Linked DNA regions of Homo sapiens: region 2 is linked to region 1. The links come from fine-mapping of genetic effects on gene expression. Tissue or cell type: whole blood. Region 1 holds a variant in brackets; the other region holds the start of a gene. All regions are shown on one strand. Distances are between the middles of the regions.

Region 1 (8,180 bases):
CTGGTGTGCAGTGGCACAATCTCAGCTCACTGCAACCTCTGCCTCCTGGGTTCAAGCGATCCTCCTACCTTAGCCTCCTGAGTAGCGGGGACTACAGGCACATGCCACCATGCCCGGCTAATTTTTTGTACTTTTAGTAGAGACAGGGTTTCACCATGTTGGCCAGGCTAGTCTCAAAACACCAATTATTCTTAGGTTTGGTAATTTAACACAATCCCAGGCTTCTTGGAGGCTTTGTTCATATTTTCTTTCTTTCTTTTTTTTTTAGATGGAGTCTCGCTCTGTCGCCAGGCTGGAGTGCAATGGCACCATCTCGGCTCACTGCAACCTCCGACACCCTTGTTCAAACGATTCTCCTGCCTCAGCCTCCTGAGTAGCTGGGATTACAGGCAGGCACCACCACACTCAGCTAATTTTTGTGTCTTTAGTAGAGATGGGGTTTCACCCTGTTGGCAAGGCTGGTCTCAATCTCCTGACCTCGTGATCCGCCCGCCTCAGCCTCCCAAAGTGCTGGCATTACAGGCGTGAGCCACCCTGCCCAGACTCATATTTTCTTATTCTTTTTTCTTTGTCTTTGTTAGACCTTGTCTTCGAGCTCTGAATTTCTTTCTTCTACTTGTTCAATTCTACTGCTGAGACTTTCCAGAGCATTTTGCATTTCTATAAGTGTGTCCAGTGTTTCCTGAAGTTTTGATTGTTTTTTCTTTATGCTATCTATTTTCCTGAATATTTCTCTCTTCACTTCTTGTATTGTTTTTTGGATTTCTTTGTGCTGGGCTTCACCATTCTCTGGTGCCTCCCTGATTAGCTTAATAACTAACCTCCTGTATTCTTTTTCAGGTAAATCGGGGATCTCTTCTTGGTTTGGTTCTACTGCTGGTGAGCTACTGTGATTATTTGGGGGGTGTTACAGAGCCTTTTTTTGTCATATTACCAGAGTTGGTTTTCTGGTTCCTTCTCATTTGGATAGGCTCTATCAGAGGGAGGGTCTAAGGCTGAAGGCTGTTGTTCAGATTCTTTTGTCCCTTGAGTCTTCCCTTTTCCTATGGATGTGGCTTCCTGTGAGCCAGACTGCAGTGATTGTTGTCTTTCTTCTGGATCGAGCCACCCAGCACGTCTACCCAGCTCTGGGCTGGTACTGGGAGTTGTCTGCACAGAGCCCTGTGATGTGAACTGTCTATGGATCTCTCAGACATGGATACCAGCACCTGTTCTGGTGGAGGTGGCAGGGGAGCGCAATGGGCTCTGTGAGGGTTCTTAGCTTTGGTGGTTTAAATGCTCTATTTTTGTGCTAGTTGGCCTCCTGCTGGGAGGTGATGCTTTCCAGAGAGCATCAACTATGGTAGTATGGAGAGGAACCAGTGGTGGGTGGGGCCCTTGAAGTCCCAAGATTATATGCCCTTTGTCTTCAGCTACCAGAGTGGATAAGGAAGGCCCATCAGGTGGGGGCAGGGCTAGGCATGTCTGAGCTCAGACTATCCTTGGGCGGGTCTTGCTGTGGCTGCTGTGGGGGATGGGGTAAGGTTCCCAGGTCAATGGAGTTGTGTACCTAGGAGGATTATAGATGCCTCTGCTGAGTCATGCAGGTTGTCAGGGAAGTGGGGGAAAGCTGGCAGTCACAGGCCTCATCCACCTCCCACACAAACTAAAGAGCTGGTCCCACACCCACCATGCACCCCCTGACAGCGTCAAGTCTGTTTCTGGACAGTGGGTGGGCTGGGCTTGAGAACTTGCCCCAGGCTACCCTCCTCCCAGCTGCAACATAAAAGGGCTTTAGTTCTACCCCAGTCTGTGGAGTCTGCACACTGATATGCATCCTCCCCTGAGTTCTGGCCAGGAGGCTTCTCACCAGGTTCAAATTGTCACAAAGTTCAGCTGGAGATTTCCTTCTCCCTGTGGTGTTTTCCCTCACTCTTCTGCCCACTCTCCTGATAGATCCCTGTGGTGCCAGGCAGGAATGGCCTGCTGGGGACCCAGCAAGTTCCCAGGGCCTTTCCTACTGCTTCCTCTACACCTGTATTTTGTTGGGCTGTCTAAATTGAATCAGCTCCAGGTAAGATCAAAAACTTCTCCTGCAAACAGTCCTTCAGTTTCTCCAGAGGGGGTGTGTGTTCGGGAGAGGAGGATCTCGCTTTCCCACTTCCGCAATTGGGGCTCTCACAATATTTGGGGTGTCTCCAAGGTCCTGCAGGAGCAGTCTGCTTCCCTCAGAGGGTCTGTGGGTCCTCTCAGGATTGGTGGTCTGTTATTGCAGTTGATCTGAAGCTAAAATTCATGACGTGAGCCTCCACACACTGCTCTGTCCATCAGAGTCAGAGCTGCAGTCTAGTTCTGCCTCCCATCCGCCATGATGATCTCCAGTTAATCTTTAAAAAGAGAGTCTAGGCCAGGCGCAGTGGCTTACGCCAGCAATCCTAGCACTTTGGGAGACCGAGGCGGGTGGATCACCTGGGGTCAGGAGTTCAAGACCAGCCTGGTCAACATAGTGAAACCCCGTCTCTACTAAATATACAAAAATTAGCTGGGCGTGGTGGCAGACACCTGTAATCCCAGCTACTTGGGAGTCTGAGACAGGAGAATCACTTGAACCCAGGAGGCAGAGGTTGCAGTGAGCTGAGATCGTGCCATTGTGTTCCAGCCTGAGCAACAAAAGCAAAACTTCACCTCCAAAAAAAAAAAAGAATCTATACGCCTGAGGGACACCACATTGCAACCAAACAGTCTGTAGCTTTAGCACTCGCAGTGTCCCAGGGCCTTAGTGGCCCTGCAGAGTGAAATAGGGCAAGGGGGAGCTACTTCAAGCAGAGCCAGGCCTCTGGACCCGCAGCCTGTGCCAGAGTTCTCTCGCAAGGCAGAACAGCAGTGCAGCAATGGAGCCATTTCCTACATTTCTTGAGTTTATATGTGTAACATGGTGATAGATGTGTCAAGCAGTATCTTTCTTGTCTTCCATGTATTTCCTAACAGAACTTAACAGCTGAGAACAAAAATGGCACTGAGTACTTTTATATTCTATTTTCAGAAAACCGACATCTTTGAGTCCAATAATCTCTTTGCAAGCCTTCTGTAAATCTAAATATTGGAGGTGGGAGGTAGCACACAGAGCTCATAGTAGTGTCAATCATCTCTTCTCCCTTCTCTTCTGATGTGCGGTGATGGGAATGGGGATGTTTGGCATTCAGTTTGTCCCCTCCCCCTTGCTATTTAACTAGGAGGTGTTCAAGTTAACCCATCTACCAAGGGATCTGTTCATAGTGTCATCTATAGATTGCTAAACCAAAAAGTAGCACAATATGTAACGCCTCAGGCTTGCTGCCACTCAGTAGAGAAAGAAATGAACAAAAAAGAAAGGAGTGGTGGGACCAATGTCTTCCTACTGCATGGCATAGTAATATGTGACTGTCCTCATGATCAAATAGACATTGTGGAAAGAGGCTAGTCGCCCCAGTGGGCAAGGAAACCTAGGCCATCAAAAAGTTTTGGAAATGATTCAAGTGGCAGAGACTAAGGGTGTGTGTGTGGTAAGGAATATGTGGAGTGTTGAAACAAAAATAGCAATAAGTTGATAATTGTTAAAGCTGAGTGATAGGTACATAGAGGTTCATTATAACATTCTTTCTACCTTCGTGTGTTTAAAACTTTTAACAATAAACATGTTTTTTGGCCAGGTGTGGTGGTTCATGTCTGTAGTCCCAGCACTTTGGAAGGCCAAGGCAGGAGGATCACTTGAGCTCAGGAGTTCGAGACCAGCCTGAGCAACATGGTGAGATCCCTGTCTCTACAAAAAATAAAATAAAATTAGCTGGGCGCGGTGACATGCAGCTGTAGTCCCAGGTACTTGGAAGGCTGAGCCAGGATGTTGAGGCTGTAGTGATCTGTGATCCTGCCACTGCACTCCAGCCTGGGAGATTGAGCAAGATCCTATCTCATAAAATAAAATTTTAAAAAATCAAACAATAAACATGTTTTTTAAGGTTATGGAATTGGACTGAATTGTGAAGATCGCCTGATATCACAGGGAAAGTCAACAGAACTTTTTTTTTTTTTTTTTTTTTTTTGAGTCTTTGCTCTGTCGCCCAGGCTGGAGTGCAGTGGCACAATCTCAGCTCACTGCAAGCTCCGCCTCCCGGGTTC[A/C]CACCATTCTCCTGCCTCAGCCTCCCGAGTAGCTGGGACTACAGGCGCCCGCCGCCACGCCCGGCTAATTTTTTGTATTTTTTAGTAGAGACGGGGTTTCACCGTGTTAGCCAGGATGGTCTCAATCTCCTGACCTCATGATCCGCCCGCCTCGGCCTCCCAAAGTGCTGGGATTACAGGTGTGAGCCACCACGCCTGGCCCAAGAGAACATTTTTGGTAACAGTTTCAGGAAGGGAAGTTACATCTTTTTATATATTTATTCATTTTTTAATTAATGGGGTGCTACACACTTTTTTTTTTTTTTTTGAGACAGCCTTGCCCTGTCTTCCAGACTGGAGTGCAGTGGCACAATCATGACTCAATGCAACCTCCACCTCCTGGACTCAGGTGATCTTCTTGCCTTAGGAAGGACTACAGGTACGCCACCATGCCTGGCTAATTTTTGTATTTTTTGTAGACATGGGGTTTTGCCATTTTACCCAGGCTGATCTTGAACTCCTGGGCTTAAGTGATCCACCTGCCTCAGTCTCTGGAAGTGTTGGAATTACAGGTGTGAGCCACTGCACCAGGTGAAAAATTACATATTAATGAATTAAGACTTTGCTATGATCTGAATATCTGTGTCCCACCCCCCCCCCATCAAATTCATATGTTGAAATCCTAGCCCCCAGGGGTGATGGTACTAGAAAGTGAGGTCCTTGAGTGGATTCGTGACCTTATAAAAGAGGGCCAAGAGAGACTCCTCATCCCTTATATTATGTGAGGTCACAGCAAGAAGATGCCATCTATGAGGAAGCGGGCCCTTACCAGACACCTAATCTTATCTTGTTCTTGGACTTCCCAGGTTCCAGAACTGTGAGAAGTTTCTGTTGTTTATAAGCTACCCAGTTTATGGTATTTTGTTATAGCAGCCAGAGTGGACAAAGACAGACTTATTATTCCAACATTTTATAAGTCCAACCACCAAAAGAAATGTTCTTGTCTTCCTGAAGAAGTGCCTCACTTTTTCTTTAACTGTGATCCAGTCAAGTATGGCTTAGAAAATAGTCACAGGAGTTTCCACTGTAGACAAGAGGTAGACAAAGGAGCTTCCTGCAAACTGGAAAAATATTTTTAAATTTCCTATACATAAACAACAAATCGGTGGAAATGCAATAAAAAGAAAAAAATCCTGTTCACAATAGCAAATAATTTGTTTTAGCAAAAGACACTCTACGGCTAAACTTAATAAAAATGTACAAGACCTGATGAAGAAAACTATAAAATGTTACTGCAGAATATAGATGATAGAATAAATGCAGAGTTATACTTGTTTCTGTTTAGAGTCAATATTCTAAAGATGTTGATTACTTCTAAATTTATAAAGGCCATATAATTGCAATGAAAATGTTAACTTTTTGGGGAACTTGAAAAATGATTCTAAAGTTTTCATTAAAAATAAATATATAGCCAGGCATGGTGGCTCATGCCTGTAATCCTAGCACTTTGGGAGGCCTAGGCAGGTGGATCACAGGATCAGGAGTTTGAGACCAGCCTGACCAACATGGTGAAACTCCATCTCTACTAAAAATACAAAAATTAGCCAGGCATGGTGGCGCATGCCTGTAGTCCCAGCTACTCAGGAGGCTGAGGCAGGAGAATCGCTTGAACCCAGGAGGCAGAGGTTGCAGTGAGCTGAGATCGCACCACTGCACTCCAGCCTGGGCAACAAAGAGAGACTCTGTCTCAAAAAAATAATAACAATAAAAATAAATATTTTGGAAAAATTGGAAAAGAAGCATATTGGGGGGGACTTAGCATACCAGATATTAAAACCTACTATAAAACAATTTTAGGCTGGACGTGGTGGCTCACGTCTGTAATCCCAGCATTTTGGGAGGCTGAGGCGGGTGGATCACGAGGTCAGGAGATCGAGACCATCCTGGCTAACACGGTGAAACCCCATCTCTGCTAAAAATACAAAAAATGAGCCGGGCATGGTGGCGTGTGCCTGTAGTCCCAGCTACTCGGGAGGCTGAGGCAGGAGAATGGCATGAACCCAGGAGGCAGAGCTTGCAGTGAGCCGAGATCGTCGCCCCATTGCACTCCAGCCTGCGAGACAAAGCAAGACTCTGTCTCAAAAAAAAAAAAAAAAAAAAATTTAATATAGCATTCAATTAAATAGACCCAAGAAAATATGATAATTTGCTATATGGTTGCATTTTAATTCAGGGAGGGAGACAAAGATTATTCAATAAATTATACTGGAAGAACTAACAGCAACTTGAAAAAAAAAGTTAATTCTGACCTTTTTTTTTTTTTTTTTTTTTTGAGATGGAGTTTCACTCTCGTCATCCAGGCTAGAGTGCAATGGTGTGATCTCAGCTCACTGCAACCTCTGCCTCCTGGGTTCAAGCGATTCTCCTGCCTCAGCCTCTAGAGTTGCTGGGATTACAGGCGTGCACCACCACGCCCGGCTAATTTTGTATTTTTAGTAGAGATGGGGTTTCTCAATGTTGGTCAGGCTTGTCTCAAACTCCCAACCTCAGGTGATCCGCCCTCTTCTCAAGGTGCTGGGATTATAGGCGTGAGCCACCGTGCTTGGCCATTCTTATCTTTTTTTAAACAACTAAATAAATTTCAGATATATTAACAGTTAAATGTAAAAAAAACTACAAATGTGCTAGAAAACACATTTGACTCTTTATTAATGAAATGTAGAAGGCCAGGCGCAGTGGCTCACACCTGTAATCCCAGCACTCTGGGAGACTGAGGCAGGCGGATCACCTGAGGTCAGGAGTTCAAGACCAGCCTGGCCAACATGGTGAAACCCTGTCTCTACTAAAAATACAAAATTAGCTGGGTGTGTTGACAGGCGCCTGTAATCCCAGCTACTTGGGAGGCTGAGGCAGAAGGATTGCTTGAACCCAGGAGGCTGAGGTTGCAGTGAACGAGACTGTGCCACTGCACTCCAGCCTGGGCAACAAGATCATAATTCTGTCTCAAAACAGAAAAAAAAAAAGAAAGAAAAGTAGAAGAGTACAAAATTTCTTTATGAGCTTGCTCTTTTCAACCTCAAATAAATAAAGCTGACAAAATCCATGTTGGTAAGGATATGGGGAAAAAAAGCAACCTCCTCTATAGTCGGTAGCAGTATAAATTTATAAATTTGTATAAATTTCCAATATACTTGAAATGTCTCATTGACCCATCAATTTTACATATATGAATTTACTCTAAGGATATAATATTACACATGGGAAGAGATATATGCACTGGAATTACTTATAATATTGAAAAATTGTAGGCCGGCACGGTGGCTCACACCTGTAATCCCAGCACTTTGGGAGGCCGAGGTGGGCGGATCACCTGAGGTTGGGATTTCGAGACCAAACTGACCAACATGGGGAAACCTCGTCTCTACTAAAAATACAAAATTTGCTAAGTGTGGTGGCACATGCCTGTGATCCCAGCTACTGGGGAGGCTGAGGCAGGAGAATTGCTTGAACCCGGGAGGCGGAGGTTGCGGTGAGCCAAGATCGCGCCATTGCACTCCAGCCTGGGCAACAAGAGCAAAACTCCATCTCAAAAAAAGAAAAATTGTAAACAACTTAGAAGTCCATCTCTAAAGTATTGTTAGTTATAGAATGTCTGTTTGCTTTCAAAGGGAACAAATAACCTTGTCTTCAACAAGACAAATGTATTTTTTTTTTTTTGAGACGGAGTCTCGCTCTGTCGCCCAGGCTGGAGTGCAGTGGCGCGATCTCAGCTCACTGCAACCTCCGCCTCCCGGGTTCAAGAGATTCTCCTGCCTCAACCTCTTAAGTAGCTGGGATTACAGGTGCGCGCTACCATGCCCGGCTAATTTTTGTATTTTTAGTAGAGTCAGGGTTTCTCCATGTTGCTCAGGCTGGTCTCAAACTCCTGACCTTGTGATCCGTCTGCCTTGGCCTCCCAAAGTGCTGGGATTACAGGCGTGAGCCACCACGCCCAGCCGACAAATGTATTTTTCACACAAAATTGCAATGAGGATAGGAGGTACGATGGGTATGTTTCACAAGATCAT
Region 2 (8,180 bases), 32 kb after region 1:
GTAAGCTAGGGTTTGAAAATAAAGCCTAGAACAAGATAGTTGTGATTCCTGCTTCTGTGGGGTTTGTAGGCTTCCAAAGGAGCAATGATCATTCATTAGTTCAACAAATACTGAGGGCCCACTATGTGCCAGGTGCTATTCTAGGCACTTGGGTATATCAGTGTACAATAAAGATCTCTGAGCAAGTCCAGTGGATTGTGCCTGTAATCCCAGATACTTGGGAGACTGAGGTGGGAGAATCGCTACAGCCCAGGAGTTAAGACCAGCCTGGGCAACATAGCAACGATCCTGTCTCTAAAAATAAAAATTTTAAAAATTGTACTGGAGAGGCTGAGGCGGGATGATTGTTTGAGTCCAGGAGTTTGAGACTGCAGTGAGCTGTCATCACACCACTGCACTCTAGCCTGGGCAGCAGTGAGACTCTGTCTCAAAAATAAATAAATAAATAAATAAATAGTATAGCATGTTAGAAAGCGGGAAGTACTATAGGAGAAAAAAATGTAGAGATGAATAATGGGGATGAAGATTGACAATTATCTAATTCTGATTGTGAGCATACTTAGCCTCATTGATCTTATTACAGGTCTGTGTACAACCTTAGGCAGTACCTGAGGCATGAGAGTGTGATAATAGTAGAGCGTATTCAGCAAGTGTAAGAATGTTTGCATGTATGGTCGGCCCGGTAATCCCAGGATTTTGGGAGGCCTTGGTGGGCGGATCACTTGAGATTGGGAGTTCAAGACCAGCCTGGCCAACATGATGAAACCCTGTCTCTACTAAAAATACAAAATTAGTCCTGCATGGTGGCAAGTGCCTGTAGTGTCAGCTGCTTGGAAGGCTGAGGCAGAATTGCTTGAGCCCGGGAGGTGGAGGTTGCATGCAGTGAGCCAAGATCATGCCACTGCACTCTGGCCTGGGCAACAGTGAGACTCTGTCTCAAACAAAACAAAACACACACAGCTGGGCACAGTGGCTCAAGTCTGTAATCCCAGCACTTTGGGAGGCCGAGGCAGGCGGATCACCTGAGGTCACGAGTTCGAGATCAGCCTGACCAACATGGAGAAACCCCGTCTCTACTAAAAATACAAAATGAGCTGGGCTTGGTGGTGCATGCCTGTAATCCCACCTACTCGGGAAGCTGAGGCAGGAGAATCACTTGAACCCGGGAGGCGGGGTTGCAGTGAGCTGAGATAGTGCCATTGCACTCCAGCCTGGGCAACAAGAGCAAAACTCTGTCTCAAAACACACACACACACACACCACACTCACTGTCCTTGCTTCCATAGGATCTATTCCTAGGAGCCTTGGCAATTTAACTTTATGGAGAAGGATAAGTAGGATGCTGTGTTCAATAGTTAGTAGGTCCTCATTAAATAAGTTTCCTTTCTATCCAGAAACGTACTTTAAAAGCCTCATGTTATTGTGGTTGGAGAAGTCAACTTTGATAAATTGGCCATTTACTTACTTTTTGACTTGTGTGGTGGACTTGGACTCCTTTTTCTTGATGGTAGTGATGAGGGCAAGAATGTCATCTAGACATAAAGGACCTGATTTCGCATAACTGAAAATTTAGTGCTGGAAAAATTAAGATTACCATGGCAAAATACTCTTCAAAATTACACAATTTAGTGTTTTCAAAGGCTTAAGTGGAGCTTTTATGCTGGATTTACGTGATGAATGGAATAAACTGATTCAAACATTAGAAGGGACATGCTTAAAAAAAAAACCTACCACAATTAAAATTTTGGAACATGATCTTAAATTCCTGTGAAAGGGCATGAAGAGTTTGTGTGTGTGTTTCGTTTTTTGAGACGAAGTCTTGCTCTGTCGCCCAGGCTGGAGTGCAGTGGCACAATTTCTGCTCGCTGCAACCTCTGCCTCCCAGGTTCAAGTGATTCTCCTGCCTCAGCCCCCCGAGTAGCTGGGATTACAGGCACCTGTCACCACGCCCGGCTAATTTTTGTATTTTTAGTGGAGACGGGTTTTCACCATGTTGGCCAGGCTGCTCTCAAAACTCATGACCTCGTGATCCCCCCCACCCCCCGTGCCTCGGCCTCCCAAAGTGCTGGATTTTACAGGCATGAGCCACCTTGCGGTATGTTAATTTGGGGGAAAACAACAGGGACAATTGGGGAAAAATTTTGTTTTGTGAATTACCAATGGAAGAACTAATCACAGGCTAAGCAACATGCTTACGGTTGAATTTGCCAAATTTAAGATGTACATACTATGATGTAGCATGTGTATTTATTTGCACATGCAGTGGGACAATTCCTACAGTTGTCTCACACTGCTGTAGATTATTAGCAACTCCATCCTGCAGTGACATCGCTTTTCTGAATTCTATAGCACTTTTCACCTAATCCTCTGATTAGTCTGTATTTTCCGGTTCAAGTGTATCTTGTTTTTCGTTTGCTCCACTTCCCTTGTCCCTTGCACCCCACTAACAGGAAAATTCCTGGTGGTCAAAATGGCTCTAATTCTTTTTGTATACCCGGGCTTAATTCAATAGGAATTGGGATAACTTTTCAATATTTAAAAAATTTGCACTGTGAAAACGTATATTTTAAACTCTTTCTACAACTTTTCATATTTGAAGAACATATGGCAGGAAGTGGATGCTTTTGATGAAGCCAAAAGAATTTTTTTAACTTCTATTGCTAATTAACAAGGAGGTGGCCGCGGGAGCTCTTTTTTTTTTTTTTTTTTTGAGACGGAGTTTCACTCTTGTTGCCCAGGCTGGAGTGCAGTGGCGCGATCTCAGCTCACCGCAACCTCCGCCTCCCGAGTTCAAGCGATTCTCCTGCCTCAGACTCCCGAGTAGCTGGGATTACAGGCATGCACCACCAGGCCCCGCTAATTTTGTACTTATAGTAGAGACGGGGTTTCTCAGGCTGGTTCGAACTTCCGACCTCATGTGATCCACCCGCCTCCGCCACCCAAAGTGCTGGGATTACAGGCGTGAGCCACCGCGCCCGGGCCAGGCGGGAGCTTTAGGTCTTATTTTATCTTGCTCTGCCCCCGACATCGTGGTGAGAGGGGAACCTTCCTCATATCTGGGCGCTGGCCTCTCCGGGCTTGGGAGAGAGGAACTCAGTGATCATAGAGCTGGCCGAATGCCGGGGTAGAGGGGACCGGAAGTTGTTTTTTTCGCCCCCGCCCAGCGGCCGGATCGCATCTCAGCTGGTTGGCTTTGGTTAGAGCTCCCGTCAGACTTTAGTTCGGCCCTAGGATTTGGTAGCCCCGAAGTGTGGGCTCTCTCCAGTACCAGACTCATTTCAGTACCAGCCTTTGGGAAGTCGTGTGAATACCTCGGTCTCTTAGCCACAGGGATAGAATGGCGGCCTGACGGAGCCGCGGCGCCGGCGAAGTCGCTGAGGCGCGAGCTGGAACCCCCAGACCAGCTCAAACGGGAGCCAAAACTCGAAGCTTGGAAGAATTAGCAGGAAATGGCGGATGAGGCGTTGTTTTTGCTTCTCCATAACGAGATGGTGTCTGGAGTGTACAAGTCCGCGGAGCAGGGGGAGGTGGTGAGTGCTGCCACACAACCTTGAGGTCCTTTTGCGGTGACACACCTTGTTTCCCCTCAGTGCTTTCCTTCAACCCCTGTCCCATCGCCACCCGACGCCTCCCGAGGTGTACACAAAATGGTCCACCTCCAGGTGTCCTAAACCCTAGAACCTGTCAGTTGTCTCCTTTGAACCGTCATCTTTCATCGTTTTCTCTTTCGTATCTTCTTCTATTTGATTCTCTTTTGTCTATTCCCGTACGTTTGTCTTGCACGCCACAGATTTTGGTACTTTTAGTGTTGTCCCTGCCATTATTTACGAGAGGGTTAACTGCAGAGCCTACTTAGTTTTGCTGGCACTTCCAGCACTTGAGCCATGCACTGGACAGACCTGTGCCAACCTGAGAAGCCTGTCCCTCCTTCCTCATTCCTAATGCTCAGTACAACTCCACACAACTTGAGACCTGAAGCCTAATGAAGGTTGAGTTTGCAAAGGAAAGTTTGCAGGCGTTAGGATAATTAGGGAACATAATTTAAATTAATTATTTCAGAAAGTATTTATTTAGTGCCCTTATGTCAGAGCGATTTCTAGGTGCCAGGGATATAGTAGTGAATGAAACAATGGCCCCATCCTTGTAGAGATTTTTTTTTAATCTAATTTAATCCGAAATGTGATAGTATGTAGCGGTTACTTCTAATATGTGGGAGTCCTTATTCAATCATTGTGGGCCTGTCACTGCTGACACTGCTAGATAAATTAAATAAAATAATACTCCTGCCTCACAGTATTTAGGGAATAGTGATTTAATGAATAGTTAACACTGAGTATTGGCTGGTAGAATCATGGAGTTGTAACGGATTTTAGAAATACTCCAAAGTCATGCTCAAGTCAGGAGCCCTTTCTTTAATGCTATTGATAAAAAATGAGTGGAGAGTGGGGATAGGAAATGTATCCTAGGCAAAGATAAAGTGGTAGAGGTATGAAAGAGTGGTGGATTTAAATACACTTAAGCATTTCTTTGGACTAGACTGAATAGAGAGTGAGAAGAATTGAGAGGTGAAGTTAGAAAGCTTTGTGTAATTAAAGAATTCGGATCTTTTCGAGGGAATATTTTTAAGGAAGGGAATGATGTGGACCATTTGCATTTTAGAAAAGTAATCCAGTGTTTGGGCTAGAGAGGGAAGATCCTTGTAGGGGGAAAATCCTTTATTACGGGAGTCACTGCAGGAGGAGATGAAGATCTGGATTAAGACAGGGATAGTGAGAAAAGGAGATAACAGATTTGAAAGTTAGAAAGTGGAATTCTGTAGGCCTTGTTTAAGGATGGGAGTGGGAGTTGAAAATTATCGTCAGGTTTTCAGCTTGAGCAGCTGGGTTGGATGGTGGTACTATTAATCAGAAAAGGAAATAAAGGAGAAGAAAAAAATAAGGAGGTAAGATAATGAGTTATTTCGGGGCAGGTTGAACTTTTGAGGTGCCTGTATGACATCCAAAAAAAGGTACTGCCAGTTTGCACAAGAAGGATAGGCAGGATACATTTGGAAGGTTATTGGAAATGAAGCGAATTCTATTCTTATTCAAATGACCCATCTATAATAGAGATTTTTTTCAAGTCACAAACTTCTGACTTTATTATTGACCTCAAGGTTTACTGTTTGTGCAAAGCTAGCCTTCCTTTTCCCTCTAGAACAGTTAACACACCCCTTTTACTTTTTTGTCATAACCCCCGATCCCCCCAAACCACTTGCGTATTCAGTTCTCTTCATTCTCCCCTCCCTTCTTACCTTTCCTCTTCTCTCTCTCTCTTTTTTTTTTTTTTTAGATGGAGTTTTGTTCTTGTCTCCCAGGCTGGAGTGCAGTGGTGTGATCTCAGCTCACTGCAGCCTCCGCCTCTTGGGTTCAAGCGATTCTCCTGCTTCAGCCTCCTGAGTATCTGGAATTACAGGTGCCGGCCACCATGCCTGACTAATTTTTTTGTATTTTTAGTAGAGACGGAGTTTCACCCTGTTGACCAGGCTGTTCTTGAACTTCTGACCTCAGGTGATCTGCCCGCCTTGGCCTCCCAAAGTGCTGGGATTACAAGCGTAAGCCACTGCGCCTGGCCCTTTTCTGACTCTTGTCTAGAATAATATTTTTTCTTCTTTTTAAAATATCTTTTTTTTTTCCCGTGGGTTAATCCTAAATAAAATGAACAGAGCTGTTCTACTCAGGCCTGATAATTTTAAGAGATGGACTAACATACAAGAGAAAGGAAGTTCATAGTTTTGAATCATTTAAGCTAAAAATAACTTTCTTTTTCTACTGCAGTGTATTTATGATGGGGGGGAAAATTGAAAGTACATAATAAGCAAAAATTATATAAATAACAGTTATGTGGTAGTCTTCATAATCAGAACCCATACTGAAATACGGGTATATAAGGGTTCACATTAGTGTCCATACTTTGAGTGTGCTTGAAATTTTTCATCATGAAAAATGTAAAAGATACATAATCCTGTCATCCAGAGGTGATTTTTAGAGATTTTTTTCAGACATAAAAAGATCTGTAAAAACTATGTTGTTTATGTCTGAAAAGACCTATAAAATCCATTTCTCGCTGACAGGATTATGTGTCTTTTTTTTTGTTTTTGTTATGGAAAGTTTTTTTAAATGAAATAAAGTTTTATAAATTTTCAGTATAGCAAAATAAACTTCCATAAGACTTGAGGTGAGATAAAAGAAAGAAACAGTGTTCTAACCCTCCAAATCAAGGTTTTTCAAACTATGCTTAAAGAGGAATTCTCTTAAAATGGACTAATTGGGCATTTCTCAATTTATGGTGAATGGATTTTGAAAGGCTAATGGATAAAATGTTCTCAAGTTGAATTTTTCTTAAAAATTTGGTGCCTACTCAAAAGTGCATGAACAAGTAGCAAAATTAAGTAGTAGGGCTTAATTCAAAAGCTCATGTGATCATAGGATTTGAAAGTGTCTGCATATAAGCATATTGTAACTGCCCAGTGGGTTCTTCTTCCCCACTGCCCAGGTAGAGCTGATCTATCAAGACAGGAGAATTGCAATAAGGAGTTTATGTAGAGCTGCTAAATGGGAGAGCAGAGTTTTATTATTGCTCAAATCAGCCTCCCCAAACATGCAGAGTCTAGGGTTTATCAAGGATAGTTTGGTAGGCTGGGGGCTGGGGAATGGGTGCTCCTGGTTGGTTGGGGATGCAGTTACAGAGGTGGGGGCCAGAGGACCAGTTGGAGTCATCCGAAATGCAAAAGTCTGAAAAGACATCTCAAAAGGCCTTTTTTAGGTTCTACAATAGTGATATTATTTACAGGAGTAATTGGGGAAGTTACAAATCTGTGACTTCCAGAATAATGTCTGATTATCATTTAACTACCTACATTTTAGCAGAATTCAGACCCCTCTCATAAGCCTAACCTTATAGTCTTTCATTAGTTTTGCAAAGGTGATTTAGTTTCGGGAAGGGCTATTATCATTCTTGCTTTAAGCTTACACTATAAACTAAATTTCTCCCAAAGTTAGCTTGGGCTGCATCCAGAAATGACCAAGGGCAGCTTGGAGGTTAAAGGCAAGATGGAGTTGATTAGGTGAGATCTCTTTTACAGTCATGATTTTCTTACTGTTACAATCTTTGCAAAGGTGGTTTCAATAGTTCCTGCTAATAAATATGTTCCTAGGTGATTCTACAGAGAGCAGATTATTCCAAAAAGAGCATCATGATTTACAGACACTTATTCTAGCTGAACTTGTTTTTTTGTTTTTTTTTTTTTTAAGAGACAAGTCTCTGGGTTAGTGTGGTGGCTCACACCTGTAAATCCCAGCACTTTGGAAGGCTGAGGTGGGAGAATTACTTGAGCCCAGGAGTTGGAGACCAACCTGGGCAACATAGTGAAACAGTGTCTCTATTTAAATAAAAAAAAAAAGAGGCTGGACACGGTGGCTCAGGCCTGTAATCCTAGCACTTTGGGAGGCCAAGGCAGGCAGGTCACAAGGACAGGAGTTCCAGGCCAGCCTGGCCAACATGGTGAAACTCCGTCTCTACTAAAAATACAAAAAATAGCTGGGTGTGGTGGTGCACGCATGTAGTCCCAGCTACTCGGGAGGCTGAGGCAGAAGAATCACTTGAACCCAGGAGGCGGAGGTTGCATTGAGCCGAGATTGTGTCACTGCACTCCAACCTGGGTGACAGAGCAAGACTCAGTCTCAAAAAAAAACAGAGAGAGAGAGAGAGAGACAATGTCTTGCTCTGTCATGCAGGCTGAAATGCAGTGTTGGGACTTTGGCTCACTGCAGCCTTGACCTCCTGGGCTTAAGTGATCCTCCCACATCAGCCTCTCGAATAGCTAGGGCTATGGGCATGCTACCATGTCCAGCTAATTAAAAAAATTTTTTTTTGTAGAAACAGAGTCTTGCTATGTTGCTCAGGCTGGTCTCAGACTCCTAGTCTCAAGTGACCCTCCTGCCTCAGCCTCCTACGGTGCTGGGATTATAGGCATGAGCACTGCGCCTGGCCTCATCCTAAGCATGTTTGAGAAGTGTGGAGAATAGCAGAAAAACTGAAGATAGTGATACGTACAGTAATAGATGTATGTACAGAATTTTACGACAGCATAGGGCCTAAGGAAGTTTCAGGGAAGCCATCTGGGAGAATGTAATACTTGA

What was found. PIP is the estimated chance that this variant, and not a neighbour inherited with it, causes the effect.
Region 2: TRAPPC6B starts here. The variant in region 1 is fine-mapped to the expression of TRAPPC6B in whole blood (TOPMed, PIP above 0.99). The same link has a PIP of 0.9 or more in lung.

Annotation. Positions count from the first base shown.
Region 1 is chr14:39,197,512-39,205,691 of GRCh38, reverse strand. It overlaps the pseudogene LOC100313942. Among named protein-coding and RNA genes, the nearest start is that of PNN-AS1, 26 kb to the right of the region's middle. RefSeq lists enhancers at 662-1,429, 751-1,950, 1,430-2,196. The variant A/C (reference allele first, on the strand shown) is at 4,135.
Region 2 is chr14:39,165,365-39,173,544 of GRCh38, reverse strand. TRAPPC6B (trafficking protein particle complex subunit 6B) reads left to right here and starts at 3,212. Exons shown (of 6, transcript NM_001079537.2): 1 at 3,212-3,530. The coding sequence starts at 3,450. RefSeq lists enhancers at 1,985-2,574, 3,356-3,405, 3,165-3,754.